Linked DNA regions of Homo sapiens. The protein of the gene in region 2 purifies or fractionates together with the protein of the main gene of each other region. This does not show direct contact. Each region holds a gene or a part of one and is shown on either strand. Other genes may lie near its edges.

The links. The genes of interacting proteins can lie anywhere in the genome.
Region 1: the proteins of RYK (region 2) and ADGRA3 purify together in Homo sapiens (affinity purification with mass spectrometry; 3 studies listed by BioGRID and IntAct, with this or other methods). This does not show direct contact.
Region 3: the proteins of RYK (region 2) and PCDH7 purify together in Homo sapiens (affinity purification with mass spectrometry; 3 studies listed by BioGRID and IntAct, with this or other methods). This does not show direct contact.

Annotation. Positions count from the first base shown.
Region 1 is NC_000004.12:22,512,727-22,520,859, forward strand, and holds the start of ADGRA3 (adhesion G protein-coupled receptor A3 precursor), read right to left. Parts: upstream 3,341-8,133; 5' UTR 3,059-3,340; coding exon 2,802-3,058; intron 2,660-2,801; exon of another isoform or gene 2,586-2,659; intron 1-2,585. UniProt on the Homo sapiens protein: Orphan receptor that may have a role in planar cell polarity pathway.
Region 2 is NC_000003.12:134,170,634-134,178,033, forward strand, and holds part of RYK (tyrosine-protein kinase RYK isoform 2 precursor), read right to left. Parts: coding exon 7,308-7,400; intron 5,407-7,307; coding exon 5,297-5,406; intron 5,136-5,296; coding exon 4,976-5,135; intron 1-4,975. UniProt on the Homo sapiens protein: May be a coreceptor along with FZD8 of Wnt proteins, such as WNT1, WNT3, WNT3A and WNT5A. Involved in neuron differentiation, axon guidance, corpus callosum establishment and neurite outgrowth.
Region 3 is NC_000004.12:30,723,309-30,730,708, reverse strand, and holds part of PCDH7 (protocadherin-7 isoform d precursor), read right to left. Parts: coding exon 6,113-7,400; intron 1-6,112.

The DNA.
Region 1 (8,133 bases), on a different chromosome or scaffold from region 2:
AAAGTCCTCAGAGAGAGCATGGCCCTGCTAATAGATTGATTTGGGGTTTGTGGCCTCCAGAACTATGAGCGAATAAATTTGTTGTTTCAAGCCACCAAGCCTGTAGTAATCTGCAGCAGCCCTAGGCACTAACACACAGTCCAAACTTCAACACGCTACCTACTACCTAGAGGCCACTCAACAAAAACTGTGCTCAACTAAGATGAAGGCAAGGTGAGGAATGAGAAAGCATCTGAACTGCAGGACAGGAATCTGGGACGTGGACTCTGATGCTACTATGAGAATTCTGGTGAGCAAGTCCCTTATCTACAGTAACTCTAACTCTTTCCCCAGTAAAATGAGGAAACTGGCCCATAAGACCCCTCTACAGGGGGCCTCATATACCTTGAACCCTCTTCAGCCAGAACAACTTTCCTCTTTTTTTTTTTTTTTTTTTGAGATGGAGTTTCATTCTTGTTACCCAGGCTGGAGCGCAATGGTGCCTTCTTGTCTCACTGCAAACTCCTTCTCCTTGGGTTCAAGCAATTCTCCTGCCTCAGCCTCCCGAGTAGCGACTAGCTGGGATTACAGGTGCACGCCACCACGCCCAGCTAATTTTCTGTATTTTTAGTAGAGATGGGGCTTTAAGCATGTTGGCCAGGCTGGTCTCGAACTCCTGACCTCAGGTGATCCACCCACTTCCACCTCTCAAAGTACTAGGATTACAGGCATGAGCCACCACAACCAGCAGAACAGCTTTAATTGATCCTTAATTGTATCTTCTTCCCATTCACTAAACAAATTTTTTTTTTCTTTTTTTTTTTGAATGGGAGTCTCACTCTGTTACATAGGCTGGAGTGCAGTGGTGCGATTTCGGCTCACTGCAATCTCCACCTCTCGGGTTCAAGTGATTCTCCTGCCTCAGCCTTCCAAGTAGCTGGAATGACAGGCATACGCCACTACGCCTGGCTAATTTTTGTATTTTTAGTAGAGACAGGGTTTCGTCAAGTTGGCCAGGCTGGTCTTGAACTCCTGACCTCAAGGGATCCACCCGCTTTGACCTCACAAAGCCCTGGGATTACAGGTGTGAGCCCACCATGCCCAACCTTAACTTTATTTTCATCTAAAAAGCTTTCAGGCAAAAAAAAAAAAAAAAAAAAAAAAAAAAACTGGATTGAAATGACATTTCATAGTTACTTATATTTTAACCAGTTTCTAAAAATTGTAGAAAAATAGTTTAATTGGTAATATGCTGAAAATCAATTTACCACCATATCCCCTATTTTTTTCTGCAACGCAAAATCAACAATTTACTAGTAGTTGACCTAATCCAGCTGAAATTGTGGACACTTTTAGGTCAGAAAAACTGGACCTAAACATGAGTCAACGTAAATGTCACTCATTGACCCAAAACCTAAATGTTTATAACATAACTGCATGATGACTAATTTTTGCAGAGTAACAAAGAAAATCTCCTCCAACATTGGGATTTTCTCCATTTGGACTGTAATTAAAGTCCCATACCGAAAATTTCCACTTCAAAGAATCTGACTAAGAAATAAATAAATATAACTGCTGCCACCACCACATGGTAACGTGTTAGTAACGGAGTCAAATAAAACAAAAACTCTTTCATCCATCTTCATGCCTCCATAAATAGACACATAGACACAATTTTCATGGTTAAACGTTTCCTAATTCAAAAAATGGAAATGAAGGTAAACAAAAGTGTTAGTAATGAAATGTATACCTGGCCTACCTGTGTATACTCCTGCTGAATTTGGGTTACATTTAAAACCATACTTTAAGTGTTTTCATAGATCATGCTGCGGTCCTTGCATTCATGTTTGTATAGTGGCTGCCTTGATTCTTTTTTTAGGAAACCAACCAAAACAACATAGAGGAACCCCGAGCCAAGGGACTCACATTTCAGTTGAACAAAATACCCATGAGAAACACTTAGACTCAAAACTTTCCAAACCAATTCATCCTTCTGAAAACAAACTCGACAGTCACTGGGGCCAACTGTTCAGCTAGAATTGGCAAAACTACGTTTGCAAAACTGAACCGTGAATCCCAGCACAAGTGAGTTACCAAAATTTTTCCTTCCAGGTGGAAACTCAATCCGAAAATCAAAAATCCCTCGAGTTGGAAGGCTCAATAAACCCACGGTTTTCAGTTCCAATGTTCCTGGCTTTTAAATATAAGCCCTCACAGACACGAAAACGGGACTGCAAGGTACATAAACAGATTGATCTGAAATGTTTCCAGCCCTTAATAACAACTCTATCTTAAAAGGTGCTCTTTAACTGTAATAAAACTAAGATAGCAAAAGGCAAAGGAAGCGTCTTGGGGTTTGGGCTCGCACACAGTCCTTGTGTTTTGCAAACTCTACCACGTAAGTGTAACTTAATTTGCAAAGAAGCAGAAGGACTGGCGCTTGCAATCAAGCATTGTGTTTTCTGGAAACCCAAGCCCAGGATGAATGAGCTTTAACTCTGTTGACTGCGTGTTTACTTGCATCCTCACGTGGCACCGCGCAGCCCAAAAGCGCTGCGCCGGGGACAGCGCGGGGAGCGCCTGAGAACCCGAAAACTTTACTTTGCAAACTAGTGGAGCTGGGAGGCAGCTCGGACGCAGATTCCCTTGCCTTTCCCTGAACTGCACCCATGCCAAGCACACGAGGTCTTTCCTAGCACCGCCCCCTGCCTACAGCTCCACACAAAGGCGCGTGGGTGCCGGCTGGACCCTGCTCCAAAGTTGAGCGGAGAGATAAGAAAGAGCCGAGCGGGAGAGGACCCAGCGTCGCGGGAGATACTCACAGGGTGACCGTGCGGTTGGGCAGAGTATCTGGGGGCAGGACCTGCGCGAGTTCCAGGCTGCTGCACACCACCTTGCCCTCGGCGGCGCCCGCCGCCCTGCCAGCCCCTCGGGGCCGCCCATCGTGCTTGCAGCCGGCGGGCAGCGCCGCGGCGCCGCCGCCGCCGCCGCCTCCCAGCAGCGCGAGCAGCGCTAACAGCGAGAGCGGCAGCAACAGCGGCGGCTGCGCGCGGCCCCGCCGGCGTCCGGGTGGCTCCATGCTGCGGGCCGGGGCCTGCGGGGCGAGCGGCGGCGCACTGGCCTAGCGGGCCGCCCCGGAGCCCGGGCGGGCAGGAGCGCGGCGCGGGCCCAGCGGCGACCGGAGCCTTATGGCGGCCGGAGGACGGGCCTTCCCCGGCGCGGACATGCTCCTTTGTCCGCTGCGGCTGCGCTGGGCCTCTAGGGAGCCGGGGGTCACGGCCGCATGGGTCCCAGCGCCGCTCTACCGCCCGGCGCGAGCACCGCCTCCTCCTCCTCCTCTGCCGCCGCCGCCGCCGCCACTGCCTCCTCCCCTGGCCAGGACCCGCGCGCGGCGGCTCCTCCCCGCCCGCCGCCGGCGGCCGCCCCCGCCCCTTCCCCTCCTCTTTCCCGGCTCTCCTGCTCTCCCCGTGTCTGCAGCTGCCCGGGACCTCGGGGAGGAGGCGCGCGCTCCCGGGACCTGCCGAGCCCGACTCCGACCCGGTGCGCGCCCGGGCCTCGGCCTCCGGGCAGGAGTTGTGGGGAGCCCGCGGGAAGGCAGTAACTCGTAGAGAGAACGGAGGAAAGTTCGAGTCCGAACGGAGGAAAGTTCGAGTCCAAACTCCACCCGCGGTGGCCACTCTCCTGCTCGTTTCCCTTCGCCGCCACCGCGCTCGCACCGCGGGCACAGGACAAAGCAGTCTTGTGCGCTCCTGGAGACTGCCCATGTGGCCCAAGGAGCCTGGCCCGGAGGATGGAGTAGGGACGAGAGTAGGGAATTTCCCTGACCAACCCTATGGGAAAAGTACCCAAAACCAAGTGTTTCGGAAGGAATCGCCTTCTCACCTCATTATGGTAGTCTTATTTGTCCCAAATACACTGGAGCCAGTAAACAGGTTCCTCTTCAATACAGTGAACAATCTGAAGCTGTTTCTGGCCTTCAGCAACAACAGCGATGGTCTCTAAAGGATGCATCTGGACCTCACTAGAAAGGCAGCCTTTTGAAAGAAATTCGACAGGCAAAGATACTTGAGATGTTCACCAGTTCGAGCAATAATGAGCAAACCCTCCAAGAAACCCCAACAGAATTGATTACTCTGACTTCCAGCCTCGCCCTAACATTTGCAAGCCCAGGGCTTACCTACCCTATGTTTAAAATTTTACAAGGACTATATCATGCTAATAAAATATATTCTGTGCTCCTGCCTTGAGAAATTACCTTCATAACAACCTGGAAGGTTTGTAAGCAGGATTCTCAGACACCTTGGAGTTTCTCCCTGAAACATGGCAGGTGGGAAAGAGTCAGATCCAAACCTTTGGCCTGTACACCTTCACCGTCTTTGCTTCCTGTGCCCAGCTATCTTCAAGGACAAGAGGGGATTTTTTGTACCTGTGTGTGAACACCGCAGCCCACAAAACCAAGTTCTGTTCACACTTTCTAACAGCCACCCTCTGTCTGCGTCTGGATCTCAGGTGTGCCTATACCAGTTGTTGGGTCCTTCATTGGGAGGACAGTTCTCAGAAGAAGCTAGCTCAGGGCCAAGAAGTGGCTTTGGTAATACCAGTCAGGGAATTCCAGGGTCCTGGGTCTTGGGGACATAGTGGGTACCCAGGCTTTGGGTGCTGGCCTGGAGATTTTTCACCCCATAAGAAGAGTCAGGTTGGTGTCCTCTAAAATGGAGGGCCTAGAACACGGTTTTTCTTGCTTGGGTCTAAGGACACTACTGCCTCTGGCCCCTACAAAATTTATCTTAGGGACCAATTTGCAGGAATCTGTTTATCTGGCTAGAGCTTTCTCAATGGGAAGTAAATAAATGGTCTCCATTTATCATTTATCAGTGTTGTATTAAATTTGAATAGCAGTTCATTTGACCAACCCAACCATGTCCAGTGCTGTCTAATAATACATTCTGTGATTGTATAGCTGTTCTAGTTCTTTGCTGTCTAATATGGTGGCCAACTGTGGCTACATAGTGTGTGGAATGTAGATAGTGTGCAATAAGAATTAAATTTTTCATTTCATTTTAATTAATTTACATTTGAATTTAAATGCCCAGTGGCTACCCTGTTGGTGTTGAACAACATAAGCCCAGACACTATGATGGGAAGAAAAAGTGGGAGATTATCTGCACCATTAAGTGACTTCGGATCTATAAATAACCTTAGCAGGCACACTGGTGCCTCTGTGTTAAGGTGGGTGAAATGGATCACATTTCTCTTGAATTTATCTGAAGAATTATTATTCCCTAACAAAATAATGATCTGTTTTTTGATTAAGATAAAACCTTACTACAGATTGAGCATTGAGCATCCCTAATCCAAAAATCCAAAACCTGAAATGCTCCAAAATCCAAAACTTTTTGAGTTCCGACAAGTAATACCTCAAGTGCAAAATTCCACACCTGGTCACATGTGATGGGTCACCATCAAAATGCAGACACACTATGCAGTTTACTAGCATCCCCAAGGGAAAAAAGCCCCTCCCAGCCCTTTTCTGCTGCTATATATCTTTTCAGGGCATGCCTAAATTCCCCCATGCAAGCGTGCCCCCCAAAGGTAATCAAATGGCATGCATGCAGGCTGGATTTGCCAACGACAAGTTCCCCACAATGCCCACACTGGGCCTTCATCTACGTGCATTACTCACTGTGGGTTTGCTTTTTTGTTGTTTTTTGGTTTTTGTTTTCCTTTTCTTTGCTCTGTGGTGTAAAGCTATTGTTAGTATAAAGAAATATCAGGCCGGGTGCAGTGGCTCACACCTGTACTTCCAGCACTTTGGGAGGCCAAGGCGGGCGGATCACGAGGTCAGGAGTTTGAGACCAGCCTGGCCAACATAGTGAAACCCCGTCTCTACTAAAAATACAAAAAAATCAGCCAGGTGTGGTGGCGGGCACCTGTAATCCCAGCTACTTGGGAGGCTGAGGCAGGAAAATCGCTTGAACCAGGGAGGTGGAGGTTGCAGTGAGCCGAGATCGTGCCACTGCACTCCAGCCTGTGTGACAGCGCAAGACTCCATCTCCAAAAAAAAAAAAAAAAACAAAAGAAAAAAAAAAAGAAATATCAAAGAAGCCTGAAGTTAATCTGTGGTTATCAGTGATAAAAAGAGGAAGCATTTATTATGTTTATGCAACAGAGTCCAGCTGTTAGAGAAACTGGACAGTGGTATGGGTATGAGATTTGTTACAGAAAAGTATGGTGACAGAATGACCGCCATGTATAATCTGAAGAAACAGAAGGATAAATTGAAGATCTATGCTAAAAGCGATAAACACAAGTAAATGAAAAATAGAAAAACACTGTATGATGCAAAATATGAAGATCTCAATTGTGCACTGAAAAAGTGGATCCATCGGCATCACAGTGACCACATGCCACTTAATGGTATGCTGATCATGAAACAAGCAAAGATCTATCACAATGAATTTGAAATTGAAAGGAACTGTGACTATTCAACAGGCTGGTTGCAGATATTTAAGCAAAGACACAGCACTAAATGTTTAAGGATTTGTGGTGATAAAGCATCTGCAGATCAGAAAGCTGTGGAAAAAGTCATTAATGAGTTTGCCCATATCATCGCTGATGAAAACTGGATACCAGAGCACGTCTATAATGCTGACGAAACATCACTATTTTGGCATCATTGCCCCAGAAAGACACTGACGGTGGCAGATGAGACAGCCTCTATAGGAATTAAAAATGCCAAGGACAGAATAGCTGTGCTGGGATGTGCTAATGTTGCAGGCACGCATAAGTGTAAACTTGCTGTGATAGGCAAAGGTTTGTCCTCTCTTTTTTTCAAGGAGTGAATTTCTTATCAGTCCATTATTCTGCTAACAAAAAGGCATGGATGACCAAGGACATCTTTTCTGATTGATTTCACAAACATTTTGTACCAGAGGCATACAGTCACTGCAGGAAAGCTGAACTGGATGACGACTACAAGATTTTATATTCCTTGACAACTGTTCTGCTTATTCTCCAGCTGAAATTCTTATCAAAAATCATGTTTATGCCATGTACTTCCCCACAAATGTGACTTTATTGATTCAGCTATGTGACCAGGATATCCTTAAAGCATTGAAGGATAAATATAAAAATACTTTCTTGAACAGCATGCTAGCAGCAATAAACAGAAGAATGGGCGTGGAGGTTTTCAAAAAAAGTTTAGTATGAGGCCGAATGCAGTGGCTCATGCCTGTAATCCCAGCACTTTGGGAGGCCGAGGCAGGTGGATCACCTGAGGTCAGGAGTTCAGGACCAGCCTGGCTAACATGGTGAAATCCTGTCTGTACTAAAAAATACAAAAATTAGCCAGGCATGGTGGCGGGCACCTGTAATCCCAGCTACTCCGGAAGCTGAGACAGGAGAATTGCTTGAACCTGGAAGGCGGAGGTTGCAGTGAGCTGAGATCACGCCATTGCACTCTGGCCTGGGTGACAAGAGCGAAACTCCATCTCAAAAAAAAAAAAAAAATTTTAGTCTGCAGGATGCCATATATGCTGTTGCCTATGCTTGGAACATAGTGACTATAGACAAAGTTGTGCATGCCTGGCACAATCTCTGGCCTGCAACTATGTTCAGTGATGATAAACAAGGTAGTGACTTTGAAGGATTGTGTATGTCAAGTGAGAAAAAAAATAACGGCTGATCTACTCACACATGCAAAAAATATACCCCCAATGTCTGTCTGTCTGTAAGCTGGAAGAAGTGAATATCAAACAATGTTTATCATGGATAATGAGGCTCCAGTTGTTCATTCGCTGACCAATGATGAAGTAGCTGAAATGGTTTTGAATCAAGTTGATCGTGATAATCAGTGACAATGAAGATGATGTTAACACTACAGAGAAAGTGCCTATAAATGACATGGTGAAAATTTGTGATGGGCTTACTGAAGGACTAAAGCAATGTTCATTCATAACAGAACAAGAAATAATGTTGGTTTATATAATCAAAGAGGGACTTCTAAGACAAAAACAGTTGGTAATGGGGCAGATGACTGGAGAAAACATTTTAAAAAGGCATCCAGCTGAATGCCTCAGAGGACCCACTTTCTAGTCCTTCAACTATTTCTAAGATTTCTTCTTATCTAAAAAAATAAAATACAGTGTACAGTAA
Region 2 (7,400 bases):
ACAATGTCTGGGAAAGAGAAGTCTAAATCTGATGAAATGGCAAAAGTAGATAAAATATGCTATGATTCAGAAATGAAGGATTATGGACTATCTAAGGGAGGCAAAACAAAAAAATAAAAAACAAAAAGGACCTCAATGTCCCCAAAAGGTCACTGTCCAGATTCTTCCTGTTCTGTTCAGAATTCTGCCCCAAGAATTCAGACCCTGGCATCTCTATTGGAGATGTGGCAAAAAAGCTAGGTGAGAGGTGGAGTAATTTAAGTGACACTAAAAAGCAGCTTTGCATCACAAAGGCAACAAAGCTGAAGGAGAAGTATGAGAAGGATGTTGCTAACTGCAAGTCTAAAGGAAAATCTGATGGCGCAAAAGGTCCCACTAAAGTTGTCTGGACAAAGGTGGAAGAGAAAGGCAAAGATGACGAGGAGGAAGAGGCGGAGGAGGAGAATGAATAAAAAACTCTATCTGTAATAACAAACTAAATAACTAACTAAAGTAATTCTCTTGTGAATCTGCTCACCATTAAGTTAATGGTGATATTTTAAAATAAAGCTGCCACATGAACAAGCAACTAAGTATTTGGTGTAACTGCATTCTGATGATGGCAGATTCTTACATAAAATGTGTGAACTCCTGCAAAATGTCATAACCATAAAAATAACTATTTCTGATATAATTTGAAATGTTCTGCCTAACCAAACCATGTATCCTCAACATGAACTTTGCCAGCTAATACCCAGCTGAAGAGACTCAACGCTCTTGGAGCATCTTGCTTGGAGATTTATTATTAGCTATAGCCTCATTTGTTGAAAGTATATTATCTAACTTAATTTTCACTCTGTAGGTCCTACAAAATATTTAATCATAAATGTTACAAAAAAATAATTCCTATCATCGCTTAATTATACAATGGTATACCTACACAGAAATAAATACGTTAAATTAAGTAATACAGGCTGGGTGCAGTGGCTCCCGCCTGTAATCCCAGTGCTTTGAGAGGTCAAGGCAGGAGGATCGCTTGAGCTTAGGGGTACAAGATCAGCCTGGGCAACACAGCAAGCCTCCATCTCTACAAAAAATAAAAGAATTAGCCACGTGTGGTGGCACACACTGGTAGTCCTAGCTACTCAGGAGGCTGAGGCAGGAGGACCACTTGAGCCCAGGAGTACAAGGCTACACTGAGCTATGACTGTACCACTGCACTCCCACCTGGGCAACAGAAGTAGCTAAGGAAAAAAAAAAAAAGTAATACATATTTTGGGGGCCTCCACTGTGCAAGCAAATAGCACTACTTGCCATCTTGCATACCCCTTTGAAATACAAGCTATCAATGCTCCTTTTTCTAAGAGAATAATAAAAAGATTTCCAACCTCTTCAAATTACACGAAATACTTATAGATTATCATCTAAGAATTATCTTCCATTTTCTGCCCATCGAACTAGTTTTGGTTCACCACAACAGCCATATCATTTCAGCAAAGGCAACTATATTTCAATAAATAACAAAATAAAAATTTTAAATCAACCACTGGAAATAAAAAAATTAACATCCCAAAGAGACGAGTGAATCCATCTTTTAAATCAACTACGGAATAAAATTTTCAAAGTAAACACTAAGAAAAGTTTACTTCACTTTTCTACATTTAAAAATGTTTAGATGTGAGCTTTTACTAAAGGAGTAAATTTGAGATCACACTGCTCTAATTCAACTGATATTATGTTTTAAAATTATGTTCTACAACCAAAGCCAAACCAATTCCTCCTGTCCCCTTTCCCACTCCATGAAAATAGCTTTGCTTAATGTAGAGCTGGTAAACAGTTCCAGCTACAATTCAGAATTTCTGAATAAAGATTTGGCAACTCTAAAACCAAAAACATTATCAAAGAGTAGAACTAGTCCTTACTGTCATTCAGTACAGCAGCTGTGCATTGGTCTAAAATCAAACTCTGCTTTCCCTTCGTATGTCATTTGAAAAATATAAAAATCAAAACCAAAAATGTAACCTTTCTCTCCCTAAAAAAAAGCCCAGGTTCTCATTACGTAGAGATTTAAAAAGAATATAACCTGCTTTGCATATTTGTACTGCTTTACTTGGTATGTTTAACTTCTAGACATTAATGCTAGAGAGAGATTTTTTCTTTATCATCAGAGCTCTGGAAAAACAGACCAGGACTAGTACCCCACTGCTCTATAAGCTGAACCCTGGGATTCAGTATCCAAGAGTCTGGCTTTATTTCCCTCATCCTGCCACCCATCACCCACCATGCCCGATGCCTCTCTGGCTAGGAGAGGCTGTGGACAACATGAAACAGGTTGTCATTCAGTGTTAGCTTCTGAGACTGCTCTGTGAAGCAGATCACATCCCTTCTCATAATCATTCATATTTACTTTGTTCATCTCACAAATGTCAGATAAATTGTTTCTTTGAGAATAGTTTATCTTGAGTTAAAACAAAGTATTTTGAAGATATATAAAATGAAAGACCTTGATTTTAACAAAATTAGCTAGGCATGGTGGTGCGCGCCTATAGTCCCAGCTACTCAGGAGGCTGAGGCAGGAGAATCGCATGAACCCAGGAGGCGGAGGTTGCACTGAGCTGCAATCGCGCCACTGCACTCCAGTCTGGTGATAGAGCGAGACTCTGTCTCAAAAAAAAAAAAAATTTAAAAATTATATAAGTAAATTGCTCATTCACATTAAGTGAACACATTTTATCAAAATACTTGGTATGTAAAAGGAGCAATATATCTGTATTAGTCCCTTCTCACACTGCTATGAATAAATACCCAAGACTGAGTAATTTATAAAGGAGAGAGGTTGAATTGACTTATTTCTGCAATGATGGAGAGGCCCCAGGAAACTTACAATCATGACGAAGGAAAAGAAGAAGCAGGCACCTTCCTCACAGGGTGGCAGGATGGAGTGAGTGTGAGCAGGGGAAATGCCAGACGCTGATAAAAGCATCAGATCTCGTGAGACTCACTAGAACAGCATGGGGGAACCTGCCCCCCATGATCCAATTATCTCCACCCTTGGTCTCGCCCTTGACGTGGGGATTATGGGAATTCCAATTCAAGATGAGATTTTGGGTGGGGACATAGCCAAACCATATCAATATCAAATAGCACATAGTTTCTAAAAAGGAAAAAAAATTTATTTAGTAGTTAGAGTTAATTAAAGGAATTTTCCCCTTTCTCAAATTATTCTCATTTTAAGGATTTTAAATTAGAATATCAGTTTTTCAGTAAAGAAATCTTAGATCATTTCAATTATTGACTGCAGTGAACTGAATGGTAGCCCCAAAGATATGCCCATGTCCTACTCCCTGAAACTTGTAATTACCTTACATGACAAAACGTGATTAAGGATCTTGAGAGGAAAAGTTTATTCTGGATTATGTAAGTGGGTTCTAAATCATATGTATCCTTTTAAGAGGGAGGCAAAGAGAGTTTGAAAGACGTATGTGAAGAAGAAGGTGGTATGAACTTGGAACAGAGGGATGGAACCGCAAGCCAAAGAATGCCAACAGCCACCAGAGCTGAAAGAGGCAAGGACTGCTTCTCCACTAGAGCCTCTGGAAGGAGCCCAGCCCTGACTACACCTTGATTTCAGACATTTGGCCTCAGAAGTGAACCACGAGAGACTATATTTCTATTGTTTTAAGCCACCAAGGTTGTAGTAATTTGCTACAGCAGCCACAGAAAACTCATACACCGAGGAAATGAGTATATACCAATTAATATAATTAATTAGCGTACAGTAATACATGATTAAAAGATTAATCCTTAAAACATACACACTTTGAAACAAAAGAGTAGCCCTAAATTTTAAAATATAGACACACAAAATACAATGATACAGTAAGCCCAATTCTTACAGTTGAAGCTTAGAAGCAAATTATTCTATAGGATTTTACATATAACACAAACAGATTATCACTGAGTGAACATATGTGGGACCCTATAAGCAGAAGTTTTACCTAATCCCTAAATATTCTGCAACAATAATAAAGTCTAACAGGCAAGAGACAGGAAAATAAATTACACTTAGTCTTCCAAATAAGACTAAGAAATCAAGTGACAGAAATTTTACATGGCTGTAAAATATGAACAAGTGAACGTGGCTTCTGAAACTGTACATCACAAAGGGCCCAACTATGATCTGGCTAAGTGGCAAAACCACCCAGAAACTTGACAAAAGGAAGAGGATGACGGGGGGATTTACAAATTTTATGAGCCATAACACTTAGAAGAGGTCACCTGAAAAAAAGAAAACATCTTTATGATCTAGCAACTATTTGGTCTGCCTCTTATATAAGAAAGAAATAATAATGAAATTACTGTAACTGCTCTGAGTCTCAAAATCCTCACCTTTAAAACTGGGATACCACAGCCTATCTCCTAGTGTTAATAGTGCTTCTGTCAATGGGCGTGGTGGCTCACACCTGTAATCCCAGGACTTTGGGAGGCGGAGGCAGGTGGATCAACTGAGGTCAGGAGTTCAAGACCAGCCTGGCCAACATGGTGAAACCCCGTCTCTACTAAAAATACAAAATTAGCTGGGCATGTGCCCATGGTGGCACACGCCTGTAATCCCAGCTACCTGGGAGGCTGAGGCCTGAGAATCGCTTGAACCTGGTAGGCAGAGGTTGCAGTGAGCCAGGATTGCGCCATTGCACTCCAGCCTGGGCTACAAGAGTGGAACTCTGTCTTAAAAAAAAAAAAAAAAAAAGTGCTTCTGTCAGAGCAGTACTGTGAGGATGAAATGAGATTACAAACAGTGCTGGCCTATGGTCTGGGTCACAGCTCCTCTCCATAAACTGGTTGACTGGCAGCTAATTACACTTGCTTTCTGGATAAAAATTTCCGGGAACAGCTAGCAGATTTTTTAAAAACCCAAAAGATAAAAATAGTAGAACATTTAAAAACAGAAAGCTGTTTCTCTATTCTTTTGCTATCTGGGGGTCCCGGCACTTACCACATCACTAGCGCTAGAGAACTCGTTATTAACCAGACTTTCAAGAGCCATCCAACGAACTGGCCTGTTTTCATTGTCCCCCAGACAGTGATAGTCCATGGGGAACAAGTCTCTGGAGAGGGCATTGTCTGTGATCTTAACTTGAAGTGTGTCATCAATGCTGAAAAGTAAAGATATGAACATCAAATGCAATCAGAGTATTAAAAAGTAGGGATCATCACCACCCTTAAATACAACACAAGTCCCACTGTGACTCGCAGAGAACCCCAAATCCAGGAAGCACTCTACATCAAGTGACAGCGTCAAGCTCATGGCACCTACACACAGTTCCTGGCAGCCAGGTCTTTGTGGATGACTTCCCTTCTGGCCAGGTAGCTCATTCCACAGGCAATCTGAATAGCCATGTGTACCAGGTCTTGCTGAGAAATTGCCTGTGGTAACAAAAAATAACATGGTTTGCAAATAGCACACAAATATGATGGCACTTTCTTACTTTTTTTATTCCACAATCCTACTCCATCCAAAAATACTGCTTTAAACCTACACACAGAATTTTTAAAAGCTATTTCTTGACCAAGACTATGTTCCCATATATCCCTATACTTATATCAACTGTAGTCCTTATTATTCTGTAATCTACCATTTACTCTGTCTCCTTTCATCTGTTAGATGTATCTCCCCAATATCCAGCACACACAGCAGCTGCTCAATACATCTGTTCAGTGAATGCTGAGTTCTCAAGGTAATATTTCAAATGTTTATAATTCAGTAATCTTTTTTTCCCCCAAACAGTAGTTTTTATTAGGAGATTCTCTCTTTGGGATTATTTTCAAATTAACACAAATCTAAGCCTGGTGCAGTGGCTCATGCCTATAATCCCAGCACTTGGGAAGGCTGAGGTGGGAGGATCACTTGAGCCCAGGAGTTCGAGACCAACCTGGACAACATACTGAGGCCCTGTCTCTACACAAAATGATTTTTTTTTAAATTAGCCAGGTATGGTGGCATGTTCCTGTGGTCCCAGCTACTCAGGAGGCTGAGGTGGGAGGATTGCTTAAGCATGGGAGGTTGAGGCTGCAGTGAGCTGTGATCACACCACTGCCCTCTACCCTTGGTGACTGAGATCCTGTCTAATGAAACAAAAAACAAAAAAACCCTGCAGCTGGGTGCGGTGGCTCACATTTGTAATCCCAGCACTTTGGGAGGCTGAGGCAGGCAGATCACGAGGTCAGGAGATTGAGACCATCCTGGCTACCACGGTGAAACCCCGTCTACTAAAAATACAAAAAATTAGCCGGGCGTGGTGGCAGGCGCCTGTAGTCCCAGCTACTCGGGAGGCTGAGGCAGGAGAACGGCGTGAACCTGGGAGGCAGAGCTGGCAGTGCTGAGATCACGCCACTGCACTCTAGCCTGGGCGACAGAGCGAGACTCCATCTCAAAAAAAAACACAAAAAACAAAAAACAAACAAAAAAAAACCACACACAAACCCAAAGTACGAGCTCCTAGCTTTTTCTGCTGATGTGTTCTTCTAGGTGTATGACAGTACTTGGGGCTGAGGAATAAAATCCTTCCCCAGGTAATGCAGATGAGCCACAGCCTCTAACCACTTATTGAGAATCCCAGCTTTAGTCTTGTCAATTTACAAAGCATATGATACATATTAGGCCAAATACTGAATGCAGCCTTTGAACCCACTTTCTCCTGGCAACTATAATAAGCATACTATTATAAATCCTAAAGCAACTTAATGGGACAACAAGATACAGCTGACAGCAAAAAAAACCCACTAGGCTTTACTACCACTACCATCATAATATGCTTGGTATCTGACCTTTGCTTTACAGTTATAAACACAAGCAGGGAAGAGAAACACTCTTAGATGACTGCCATCTTACAGCCACGCATATTAACAATACATCCAATTATCTCCCACAATCTAGACCTCCAGTCATCACCAGACTTTGGTATAGTATGAACCAAATGGCTCTAGAAAGTCTGTTTCCATTCCTAAGAGGAAGATCTAGGACAAGTACCCTCAGTTATCAGGAAAACACCTAAGATGGCATTACAAAGGGTTTGAGTTGATTATGAATAAGTACACAACGAGAATATAAGGAAAACTTCAGCATCAGCACAGTGTAAGCCTCAAGGCAGGAACATAAGCCAACATTTTCCTTTAAGCCAACAGGTTATAAATATCTTGTGGTTCATTTTGAGGTTCTTTTTTGCAGGCCTCTAAACAGTTTATATTTAAGAATGTTAATATCTACTTTCAAAGACATTATCAGAAACTACTGGTAAATAATTGGTATTTGGGCAAATTTTTCTCACCTGTGGATTATTGGCCTCTACTAACTTGCACTGTCGTAAAAACAATTTAAGATTCCCCCAATTCATGTAAGGCAATATCACCATGGGCTTTTC
Region 3 (7,400 bases), on a different chromosome or scaffold from region 2:
ATAAAGAAATTTTCCCCAGTGTCTTATGCCCAATTGGAAAGCTTTAGTAGAGATTTCGGAGCTAAGAAAAATTTTAATGCCAACTTTGTGTTTGTAAATAATAAATACACTTGGGGGGTGGGGGAAGTTAACTTGTCAGAGGAATCCTACCTGGGAGCTTTAATAGCTTTTTGTTTGTACACAGCATTAGAGTTCAATACAAACATCACTACATTCCTGAAAATAAACCTTGATTCCGCCTTTAAAACATTAATTCACCAGAAGTGATAATTAAGATTAGTTTTAGTGGTTTCAGCTCAATTCTTCTTAGAATGTGATTTTTCCCACAACACTAATGCTAAATAAAGCACAGTGTAATGTACCGCAAAAGAGTCACTGCTTTAGAAAAGATTCTATGGGTTTTTTTAAAAAAACTAAGAAAAGCAAAGCTTACTCTAGATATATGGGAACAGCTCTTACTATTTCTATAGAGTCATAGTAAATAAATGAATGGGAAACCTTGCCATAGTCTAGAAATCGATTATACACTCTTTATACATGACTATTCTAAACAAAGTCATGTTATATATTTAAAGTTATATATATATTTAAAATACTGTATATAATTATACTAAATCTCCTACATAATCTCCACCACCACATCCTCCCAGGAAAGAAAAGATGTTAAAATGTTTAATAGAGTAGATTGCTGTGTTGAAGTAATGGCTTTGTCACACTATATTTAGTTTTTAAAATAGTTCAGATTTTATTTTTAAAATTAATAGATTCAATAATTTATATTTTATCACTGTGCAAATTTAGAATCTAGTACACTAGATTGGTTAACTGCCTAACAAGGAAGCAATCCAATTGAAAGTTAACAAAATGTCATATTCTTCTAAAAACTTGCTAGAAAACAAATTAAGAGAAAACATTCGTGCATGACTGTGTGTTAAGGATGCTACTAAAATAAAATGTATGTGCAAAGTTGATAAAATGCACACAAGCCCAGAAGTCAAAAGTAATTATCAATATTGATGAAAAAGGTAAAAGATTATCACAATTAGAATGCATAAAAAGTTTCATACATAATGTGTAGAATGTTTTAATTCTTTTCTATTTAAATGAATTTTTATTGAAATATACTAATTGCTAGGAAGGAACTTATGTCTGTTATCATTGTTCTGCTAATATTAAAAATTCTGTCAACAGAATATATGTTCTTAACCATGTTAAGATGCTTTACTCTATGTTATCAATTACAATCCTACATGAGGGAAAAGAATTATTAACTTCTTTAAAATTCTGTAAATTTTGAATTATATTTTCCCAGATAATTTTACACAGAAGAACTGGAGCCTAAAGCAGAATTATAGTCTATTGTAAAGATGTCAATCTTCATAGCCAAATATATAGTCATAAATAAGTAAGTAAATTTCAACAGATTTCTACTGCAATTGAAATACACACACAGAAAGTTACAGAAATTCAGTTTTTTTCCCCCAAAGGTAGTATGATCAGATAAATAAGAATACTGGACACTACATTCCATAACTTGGACTCTAGTCCACATTATATCCCTGACAATTTTGTAATCCCAATCAAGTCACTGTTTCATGCTGGGCCTCAGTCTCCTCTTCTATTAAAATGAGGGGACTGTTTGACACCTTGTAATTCTAAAATGTGATGATGCTAGTGATTTCATGTACAGTCATTAAGCTGTTGATTATAGTATATTTTATTTCAACATTGTGTATGTTTAAGCTTAGATATTTTTCACATATTAATCTATAAACATCATGACTAAATAAAAGACTAATACAGCTATAAATGGTATACACTAATATGTGTGTATATGTCTCTGTGTGTACAGAGTTTGTGATATAAACCATGTTCACACTTTTTCACATACGAGATATGTAATTACTCAAAGATAGAAGGATAAGAAAAAATGATTTTGCCATATTTATTGTACTAGATGGCTCATTAAAATATTTAAACTGACTTTGTGGTCTTACATCTAAGTCATTAATTGGTTTAGGATAAGTTTTGGATAAGATTCAAATAATCATGTGGACTTCCATATAAATTTGCAAATTCATTGCGGATCAAATCAATGGATGACCTTTTCCTTATTTCATAGACATCCAGAGATCCAGATAGTGTTGCTTTACTAGATGACTAAAGACACAGCCTAACTTCCATCAGCTATTAGTGTTTTGCCTATGGTATCAGGCCAAATGTAACGGAAATTACAACATATGCAGATTCATTGTGCCTTATGAAAACATCCTTGGTTATAGACAGGAGAAAAACATTGTAAAAATTATGCTTACAGAATGAGCACTGGAAGCTATGGTTGGCATCACTATGTAGATGCATTTCCACTAAAGAATATATATATATGCTCTCTCTCTCTCTCTCTCTCTCTCTATATATATATATATATATACATATGTATGTATACACACACACACACACACAAATGAATTGACATTTAGTTTTCTTATTGCTTAATAGATGACAGCAAGTCAACCATTTGCTTCCAAAATTGAAGCAATTAAAAAATTCTCCCAAATTTTTTCACTAGGTATACAATGAATATATTGAACATAATTCGATCACTAAAGAGAACATTATGAAGACAAACTGAAACTGTCACTGAAGTTAATGTAAATTTTTTGTATTTCAGGATCAGCTGCAAGTGGATTTTAAAATGGATGTTTATTCAAACTAAGCTCTTGCCAAAAATAAATTACCTTACTTTCCATTTACTAAATACAATAAAATTTTTACTTGTAAGTGCATTATCTAAATAACAGCCTATCAAGGATAAGCTCAATAGAATTCAAGAATAATAAGCAAAATAGTAACTGTACTTTTCATACTATCACTCTTTGGGGGGATTACATTATTTTAAAAGAAAATTGAAAAATGCTTAGCACATAGTAAAATACCAGAGACTTAAAAATAAACAGAAAAATAGAATGCGTATGCCTTTATGTTATGAATGAAAAACACAGTTGTACTTCTAGTTCACAAAAGTTTAACAACTACCAAGACCAGGTTTACCAAGGAAGAATGAAACAGAAAGGTGGATACTTAATCTCAATCATGCTGTCAATGATCCACATTTTGCTCAGCTAAACACATTATTTAGCTGAGAGCAAAGGCTTTTGTTTGAAATGCAAAGGTATGAACTATGAAAATTTGGGCTACATCATCAGTGAGTTTTTCTAAAGTGTGAATTTCGGAAATAATTCCAGCAACTCTACCACACACATTTCCTAGAGTCTGCCATAGAAGCTTGATTTGAATGGCTCTCAAGTCTATGTAAACAAAACAAAAAGTAAGCAGTTAAGGGAGAGTATTATTTACAAACTTTCATTTCTACAAAGCTGTTTAACCTATTATAATGAAAACAACAGGACTTAGGTTCAACACTTTAAAATGTCTAATTTTCATGAAGATAAGAACACTCTTAAGAAACATCACTTTAATTTTTTCACAAATAAATAACTGCAATAAGGCAATTCAGGAAAACTATAAATAAAATGAATGTAAAATGAAATCTCAATTTTTAAATTAGACCCTGCTGTATGGAATTGAAAGAATACAACAGTCTAGTTTTACCTTAGATAAATCCATTTATCAAAAGAAGGAAATTCCCGCGAAACCCTGAATTCTCTTTTTTTCTTTTATAACATCAGGTTTAATCAAAGAAAATATATTTTGGCAGTTCTGTAAAAATTAAAGGTCATATATTTTAAAAATAAAAATAGGAAATTGTCTACTTATGGCACAAACAAAAAGCAGAACAAAAAGGATCCCATTTATGTCAGATGTCAAAACGGAATGTAACTTTGTAAATGGATCCCTTGTCCCCTGACAGCAATATTGAGGAGATGAAACATATCAATTACTATTACTAATTACATTAAGGGGAATGTGTTTCATCTGCCTTTATTTCATTTTAGGTCAGCTATTTACTTGGGGTTAAAAGTGTATACTTCTTTTGAATATGTAATGACAGAAAAGTTTTCCAAAGTCACTTTTGGCAAACTGTGTGATTCATTCCAATTGCTTTGAGGGTTTTCTCTTTTGGAATGTGGACTTCTTTACTCAGTTAAAAGGCTAACACCATATATTAGTTTATTTATAAGCATATCACTTTGCCTTTTAAACAGGATGCCAACAGTCTTGATATTAGCTGTTTTAAATATTCAAGCATATAGAGCTAACCTCATCTGATGAGCCAAATGAAGCTTAAGTAACAGCACAGAACATATGAAGTGTTTGCATAAAATATCCATAAAAGTGTCACTTGATATGTCCATTCAAAAGCATAAGATTACACAATTTAGAACGCAAATGCTATCCAGACACAGGACAGAAGTACCATTAGGATAAGAACCGAGGTGTAAATATTCTGCAGACAGATCTCTTCACACTCCTTTGCATTAGGTGTTACTATTTTCTAGAGAAATGTCTACAAATCTCAATTTATTTTTGAGTGTTTAATCTGTAAAAAGTGCTACCATTTTAGCTAGAATCTTCCTTGTTTACAACACCAATAAAAGCACCAAAACAACACAAAAATCAGCTTCTCACTCCATGTAACACAATAATACAACAGATATAAACACTCCACTATGTCAAATGTTGGTTTAAAATAAATAAATAATTCAAATTCACATACACCAAAGGACATATTTTCAAAAGCCATTTAATGCAAATGTAGTTTGAACTGGTGTTTTCTTGGATTGCATTTGTTATTAGATATAAAAGTATATTCAGACTGTTTCTCCTTATCTGAATAGCTACAGTAAAGTACTATATACAGAAAATATTTATTTAAAATACTAATTTCAATAATCATGAAAGCAATTAAGAATTCATATCTCTTTCTATAACTATAATCTTCAATGAGGCTATAAAATAACTTTTTCCTTTGCCTCAATTCTTCTCGGATTCCACATTCCACATGCAAAGCATGTTTAATAGAAATTAGATTGACAATCATAACTGTGTTTCTTGAGATGGGTTCTGACAGTAAGAAATACGTAATGTTTTATTAGCTGAGGTTGCTGTACCATGAGACACAGTCCTTTCCAAAAGGTCTTGTTTGCTGTGTGGCAAACTTTGGTAGATATACAAAGTAAACTTTCTGAGGATGCTATATTACACGAGGAAAACTTTCAAAAATAAATTTCAGATTTGCTTAAGTTCCGCCTCAGAATATATGTATTTTTTACTGTTTCCACATTTCACTGAGAAACTATTATGTCAAATATTCCACATAATCTTTACATTCTCAATATATCATAATGCATACCAAAATAGTCTTGCACACAGTACATCAATCATGAATATTTTCATTACTTGGCTTAAATAATAAATGGCTCATGCAATGTATTTTTGTTTGCAAACTTTTAATACCAAACAGAAAGAATGCAAATGGTAATTGCATATCATTATAGAACACTAATTGTTATAGGTATCGATTATTATAGATATAAAAGATTGAAAGTGGAGTTTTGCATGACATTTGCATATCAGTAAATATTTTTAAACCAGCAGTTTCATCAAAGTAGTCAGTATTTCAATATCTCAGACTTAGTACTACATCTGCATGAATCAGCATCTATTTATCTGTAAAATCCTGCATTGTAAATAACATAGCTAAAACTTCTATGGAATCCAATTTGCATAGACACCAGTAGTAACTTTAGAAACTTTTTCTCTGGATGTAATTATCCACTTAGTTGCCACAGAAGAAAATAATTTCAGGTGAAAACTAACCATCTAAGTAATACACACATATTTATTCTGGAAACAAAAAAATGTAGTATGAATTAGGGATGTCAAGTGCAAAGAGAACTGCCAAACACTGCCTACTCTGAATACTTCTTTCAGTAGTTTAGTGAACCTTAATTCTAATTTGCAAAATACAGTGGTATACCTCTTGTAGATGGCCTTTGCTAAATTAATGGTGCAAAAATTAACATTAAATTCCTACTGTTAAAATTTTAATAACTTTAAAAACGAGAAGACAAAACTTTACAGAAGATAATCTGTCTCAGAGTTATTAGCCCTCCCTGGGATATTTAAATATATTTGGGATACATCTTACCTGTTTGCTGTACTTGTTATTGGTTTGACAGCTGTACTCAGAGCAGTGATCTGATCCAATTGAAATGTTGTCTCCTGCTCCCACAAATGTGTTGGCTGGTGGTAGATCTTGTACGGCCTGGTGTTTTTTTCCTGCAGTTGGTGACTGGGGATGAAGCTGAACAGTAGGCAATGGGGAACTAGATTTGTAATGCCTTGCCAGGTCAGGACTGCCGGGCCCACCATTAACGGACCTGTATCGCCCCATGCTTGGGCTGTCTGACAGCTTCTCATTGACACTATCATACCTCTGTCCATTTGGCTTAGAAGCCTCCACAGTGACAATGCTGCTGTAGAGAGGCTGCTTAGATTTTTTGTTTTTCTTGTCCTTTTTAGGCTTTTTAGATTTGTCATGCTGTTGGGGTGTAAAAAAGTCTTCGTGATCTTTTTTGCCGGCTTCATAGCCATTTTTATTTTTGGACCTGCAGTACCTTGCCATCACTACAATTAAGATGATTAGAATCACCGTCATAATGCCAGCAACCACGCCAATGACAATACTGAGTCTCTGTTTGCTAATTTCATAGCTTGGGTCACCAGCTATATCCTGGGTGAGTGGGATGTGCAAACTTCTAGCTATCTGGGAGTCAATCGCAGTTGCATTAGAAACACTTTCATTGACAAACACGTGCACCAGAGTCGTGGTGGACTGGGAAGGCTGCCCACTGTCATTCACTTGCACCACCAACCTGTGCAAGCCATAATGCTTTTGGGTGAGTTTTCCCACTAAGGAAACCACACCACTAGTGGGATCAATTTCAAACAGCTTGAAGGGATTTCCTCCCACAATGCTGTAGTTCAGGTCTGCATTGATGCCATCATCACTGTCTGTTGCCAACACTGTAGCTACTACTGTCCTGACATTACTCGAAGGTGGCAGTAAAGTGTAGGAAATGTTTTTGGGAAGGGTAACTGTGGGAGCATTGTCATTTTCATCCATCACAAAAAGCGAGACTGTAGCTGTGGCAGATCTGGGAGGATCTCCCCCATCCACAGCCTTGACTCTGAAAGTGTATGTGGTCTGATGTTCCCGGTCAAAAGACATTGTGGAGTAAATGGTCCCCGTGTCATTTTCAATAGAAAAAATGTTATTGTTCTCCTCTATGTACAGGCTCATCTCTGCATTCCGCCCCTTGTCAGCATCCATCACGGTGACCATCCCCACAGGGCTGTTGGGCTGCAAGTTTTCTTTCACATAAAAGGTGAAGACGTCCTGCATAAACTTAGGGTCATTGTCATTTTTATCAGCC